Linked DNA regions of Homo sapiens: region 1 is linked to region 2. The links come from fine-mapping of genetic effects on gene expression. A gene starts in region 2. The other region holds a variant in brackets. All regions are shown on one strand. Distances are between the middles of the regions.

Region 1 (2,901 bases), 320 kb before region 2:
GACTCTGAAAATGAACTTGACTCAGAGCCTGGTATAGCTGAGTTGGACCCCTTCCCATTTTCCCTGCTGCCCTGATGCCAGAGGGGCCAATATCACAGCTCTAGCTCTCTTCTGAGTCCCCATTTGCCCGATAACTACTGCAGCCAGGCTCTGGGCTGCTGGGGACAGTGGGGGCAGAACTTCCTTGCCTCTGCCTCGGGTGGGCGAAGAGATGCATTCTTGTCATTACACATGAGGAATTGGAATATAGCTTCCTATGAAAGTATTCCTAATGGCAATTAAATTCTATATTAGCCAATAGAGAGAAATAATCAGACTTGGGGTGAGAAAATCAGGGGCAGTAACTAAAGGATTTGCTCATATCACATAGGTAGCTAGTGACAGAGCTGAAACCAGAATCCAGGGCTCCTAACTCCCAGCTCAGTTACAAATGGGCTGACGGGTATTTACTCACTGGCTGGAGAACCTGTCTGCCATTCATAGCATGATGCCTATCAGAAAATGTGTTCCAAGTTCCAAGTCACCTACTATGGAGAAAATCCAGACCATGGCTCATTCTAAGTTGGAGGCTGGTGGCTCTGGGTAAGGTCCGTCCGTCTCAGGGCTTGCTGGAGAGGTCTGACTCAGGGAAGTGACGTTACTCCTGACCTGATTTGCCAACAGAGGGATCTTCACAGCACAAATGGCCTCAGGATTCCCATGTTAAAGGAAGTCCAAAAATTACTCAAGAGAAGAACCTTTTCTTGTCTCTCAAGGCTCTGCTTACTTAAATTGGTTTTTATTTTTCCTCTCTCACTGTACCATTTCTGGGGGAAAGAAGCTGGATGAAACAGTTAATCACTATGATTTTGGGCAGAAAATTCCACGATCTCATTACTTCAGGCACCAACTGAAGTTCATCTTCTGTGCAGCCCTCAACCTTCAATGAACGTGAGCTGACCCCATGGTGTTCTTACGGTGATGATGGCAGTAATAGTGACACTATTCCCACATCTCGTTTCCCTCCTCAACAATGCTCATGGGACAAAAAACCAAGCTCAATTTTGATGACATTTTGTCCTGTTGGCTCTCTTTTTCTCTCCTGAATGAATGACAATAATCACAAATGTCTTGGAGAGCTATTGTCCCCATACAGAATTGATGGTGAGATTTCAACAACCCCCAACCCTCAGCGACTGTTGAAGTGTGTTTTTTACCAGCTCCATTATCACTTTGTCTCTCATTTCCACTCTGCAATGCTGACCTTCTTTATCCTCTCTCTGGGCTCATGTGGACATCTAACAGACTGCTAAGATGGGTCACTGTGCCCACTGTCTGTGTCTTGTTCCTTAAACCTTATCCCATTTTTCTCTTCTTTGAGGCCACATATGGAGCAGCCTCTAGCCTGTGAACAGATGCAGATATTATGATGGGAGGAAGAAAGGCAGTGGTCAGCCCAAGCGTGGGTTGAAACTTTTCTAGTCCCAGCGCTGTCGCCTCATCTTTCTGAGGCTCTGTTTTCCACTCTGCAGTATGAGAGGCCCAGACCCGTTGAGCCCTGAAGGTCATTCTGGCTCTCAAAGACCTTCAAGGCGGCAAATGCCGCAGAACCAGGGACCCCTGCGGCACAGCAGAGTAAGTATGGGG[C/A]GCCTTTGGGAAAAAGGCAGGCGAGTGGCAGGTGGGAGTAGGCATGGGCGATGGGAAAGTGGTAGGGTATTTGCCTCTTTTAACATGTTGAAACAGATTCTTACTCTTCTTACTTTGGATTTTGGGCAGCAAACTCCTGGGAGGGGAGGCACGCAAGAAGACTGGGAACAACTTGGGATGCCCAACAGGTGAGGCGTGCTGGCCTGACAATGCCACTCTTTCCCTGCTGTGATGGCATGGCCACCCCCAACCCTGAGCTGTTGCCTGGCTCCCCACCTCCCCTCTCTGAGAGAGCTGGTGAGCACCCCCAAGCCCCTTGCATCACTCTCTCTCTCAGGGCATGGCCAGATGCAGAGCTGGGAGGATCCCCGTATCTCCTTGAATGACTAAGGGTGAAGATAATTCTATTACCAGTAATAGTATGTTGTAAATTTCCCAAATCCACCTGTTAATTAGTGCCGCCCCCTCCCTCTCCTCCTGAATATGAAGCAACGCTGTATAATCATGGCATTTTGTGGGTGACGCTGTTTATTATATGTGGTATTTCAGTGGTTTGTGTGGGAGAAAGGATGAATTATAGCTCTCTGGTTCCAACCCATTCCCAACCCCCATGCCCATCCTTCTCTCCCATTCCCCTGATATAGAAATCCATATGTGTATAAATAAGCACATGAATATACAGTGCTGATTTGCCATTGACTGAGGGGGAGCAGAGTGTGGTGGAGTGAGGACAGAGCCAGACGCCATCACCTCGGGTTCTGGAACCACTGAAGACTGGCAGGGAGGCCTTGGGGAGACCTCTGATGTCACTAGGCTGCAGCTTCCTTGTCCTAAGAAGAGAGTAACCAACCAGCTCTGCTCCTCCTCTGAGCTTCTGAGGAGATCCAAAACAAGGAAACTCTGGAAACTGAGCAATGCTATCTACTTGTGAGGTGAAATTCTTTTTGATTTTGTTTTTGAGACAGGGTCTCCCTATGTCGCTTGGGCTGGAGTGCAGTGGCATGATCCCAGCTCCCTGCAGCCTCAACCTCCTGGGCTCAAGTGGTCTTCCTGCCTCAGCCTCCCAAGTGGCTGGGACTACAGGCACTCATCACCAAGTGTGGATAATTTTTTTGTATTTTTTGTAGAGATGGGGTTTCACCATATTGCCCAGGTTTGGAAATTCTTAGTAACTGCTCTACACTTCTGTGGATTCCTTCTGTAGATTCTCCTGGAGTATATTTGCAGCCAAATTTCTATGGATACTAAGGGACTAGAATCAGGATGATTAGATAA
Region 2 (2,901 bases):
GGGCTGTGATTTATTGATGTTTATATGACCAGTGCCTACACCATATCTGGTATAGTATAGCGCTCAGCAAACGTTTCTGGTATGAATAAGGCCTTCTCTGTGAAATGTTTCCCCCAATTTTCCTTGATTAAATCAGTTCAACAAAAATTAGGAACCTGTCTACCCCTGACACATGACTCCTAAAGGGCTTCCTTTAAGAGCACAAACAACGTTCCAGATTCCCTTCTTCTCAGAGGCTGATGAAGCATTATCCTGGATAAGAACCCTGGACCATGAGGTTCCACTCGAATCCCGACAGAGACGCGCGAAAGGAGAGGCAGGGGAGAGAGTTAAGCCTGCACCAAGCTTCATTAACAGCTATTGGGAGGCAAGTCCTGGCCCCGAGGCTCAGCCAGGCCTGGATAACCGGACCGCCTGGAACCCAGAGACCTGATAGCCTGTGGCCTGGGAAGGAGACGCGAGGGGCTGCGGGGCCTAAAGGCGCCGGGCTCTCCGCAGCGCCACGCCTTGCGCCCGGCGCTTACCTTTCCGAATGAGGGCGGCGATCTCGGGGTCGAAGCCCTGCCGGTGGCACTTCCTCCAGAGGCCCATGTTGGTGGAGTTGTACTGCCGGCTGCACTCGTCCGCGGGGCTCATGGCGAACAGCTGCCGGCGATTCCGGGCCCGGAGGAGTTTGCCCTCCCAGCGGTCCAGGCGCGAGCGGCTCGCCCGGAGCGGCAAGTTGTTGTTATTGTTGTAAATGAAGCCGGGGTCGACCCGGCGGGTGTTGAAGGCCTTGCACCTGTCCCTGTGCTTCCTGGCGTCCGTCTCGTACCAGTGGTCCGAGCAGATGGCCACGGCCAGCATGCCGAGGGCGCAGAGCGCTAGCGAGAGGCCAGTGTAGAGCAGTAACCTTCCGGCAGCCATGCCTCCGCTTGGCGGCTACACCATGGGCATGATCCGCCGCAGCCTCGCCTTCCCTCGCCGCACCCGGAACAAAGCGGCGGGCGGCCGAGCTGGGGGAGGGGGCAGGAGAGGGACTCGCGCCGCGGCGCCCCCTCGGCCCCCGCCTACCGGAGCACGGCCCGGGGACTGCGGGGATGGGGGCGGGCGGCCTAAAAAGTTCTGATCCGGAGAGGCTCCCGCGGGCTCCTGGGCATCCTCTGAGGCAGGTGCAGCCTCCGGCGGCGGCGAACCCAGCGCGGCCGCCTCCCGCCCCCTCCCCGCCCCGCAGGAAGCGACTGCCCCGAAGCAGCCGCCTCGGCTCCCAGCCCGGCTTCGGGCGCCGCTGCCCTCGGGCCGGAAACTAAATGCCAAGTGTCCTCGGCTGCGGTGGGGCTTCTTTGTGCAGGATGGTGACGGGACAGAACTCGCCTGTCTCTCTGAGGGGGACGGGGGGTGCTGTCAGGAGGCGCCACTGGACCACCGGGTGAAGTAGAACGCCCCGGATGCGGCCGGCGGGCGAAAGAAACCTCCAGGTGCTGGGGCCGGCTTCTCGGAGTCCCTCCTGGGTCTCTGGCTCAGAGCCTCTCCCCCTCCCCGTCTGCAAGCAAAGACCTGGGGCGCGCACCCAGAAATGTTCTTCCTCTTTGGGTCGGGTCCTCTTAAAATCTCCGTTCTCTGGTCACCAGCAGGTCGGTTGCTCCTTCTGACCCGCGTGCTGCGCTCAGAGGCGCACTCCCCGCGGACGCACGCTCTCGGCCGACCTTTCCCCGCGAGCTCCCCGGTGCCCTGCCTCTGGCATCGCCATTCAGGCGGCCCCTCGGGCCGACAGCGTGTTCACCCGGGCGGCGTTACCGGACGAGACCCGGCCTGGGATCTGCGGAGACTGGGCGGCTGCTGGCGGACGCGAGGGGCGGGCTGCGCGGCGGAGGGTGCACCAGGCAGCGCTCACTGCGCGCGGCGCTAGGGGCTCGGCCCACCGCGCCTTCAACACCATGGACAGGTCACGCCGCCACGGCGCGCTGCCGGCCCAGCCGCCAGCCCCCGAGCGTCACGCAGCTCTTCCCAGCGCCGTCTTCTGCCTGGAGTGTCCACCCGACCGCCTCCGGACCCGGCTCTCCCGCGACGCCTCCGCCTCACTTCATCTGGCACCCGGGAGCCCCGGGAGCCTGCCGCCCAGGTGCAAAGAAAATGCCGCAGGCACCGAAGAAAACCCCGGTCCCGGCCCCTCCAAACAATCCGCCCCTTTCTCCAGGCACCTGAGCCCTTGGCACTCTGGCACCCCGTCTGCTCTGCCCAGCTGGGCTCAGTCGCTCTCAGATTGCACCATTTTCTTCGCAGCCCACCCGGGCGCCGAGATGCCGGCTCACTCGACAGCGTGCAGAGAATCCCGTCCTGGCCTCGGCGTCCCACGATCCGGCTCCCGGCGCGCGGTGGTCGCCGAGATGAATGGGGAGAGGGTGGGGGAGGGAGGCTGGGTCACTCGGCTTCCCCTCGTCGCCTCCTCCTCTAGCCGCGGCGGCTCCGAGGCCTCGCAGGCTCGGCTGGTGCCCGGGAGGCGCGAGAGCCCAGGCTGCGCCCAGGGGACTGGGGAAATCGCATTGCCCGGGTGCGGGCGCCGGAGGAAGCTGCTGCCGCGCTCTCTCGTCCGGCGCGGGTAGCTGCAGCCTTGGCTAAAACCCACAGACGAGAACACCGAGCGCGCAGCCAAAAGCTAGTGATGTCATCCGTGCAACGTGAGCCTCATCTCTTATTTTTCTAGTCTCCTTAAAGATAAACTGCACCATTTCCCAGGCACGAAATGTCTAAGTCTTATTCTTTGACCAGGCAAGTCAATGGTGTCTAGATAGGTATGTGCCCAACCACATCCATATTTATGCACATATACATATATGTGGTATGTAGCATGTTTACATGCATTATTATAAATTTAGGGATGTTGCCTACAGCTCCTGTTTCTCTTTTCAGCCATGGAAAATT

Which allele goes with the higher level. Positions count from the first base shown, and alleles are read on the strand shown. Sizes are in standard deviations (SD) of each study's normalised expression.
With allele A in place of C in region 1, the expression in aorta of the gene that starts at base 1,153 in region 2 is lower (large effect, 0.86 SD a copy in GTEx).

What was found. PIP is the estimated chance that this variant, and not a neighbour inherited with it, causes the effect.
Region 1: its variant is the best candidate, but not a certain one, in a credible set for the expression of TMEM178B in aorta (GTEx, PIP 0.72).

The regions. Positions count from the first base shown.
Region 1 is chr7:141,395,124-141,398,024 of GRCh38, reverse strand. The region is part of intron 2 of TMEM178B (transmembrane protein 178B); the gene reads right to left. Among named protein-coding and RNA genes, the nearest start is that of AGK-DT, 150 kb to the left of the region's middle. The variant C/A (reference allele first, on the strand shown) is at 1,627.
Region 2 is chr7:141,072,316-141,075,216 of GRCh38, reverse strand. It overlaps TMEM178B (transmembrane protein 178B), which reads right to left and starts at 1,153. Exons shown (of 4, transcript NM_001195278.2): 1 at 525-1,153. The coding sequence starts at 906.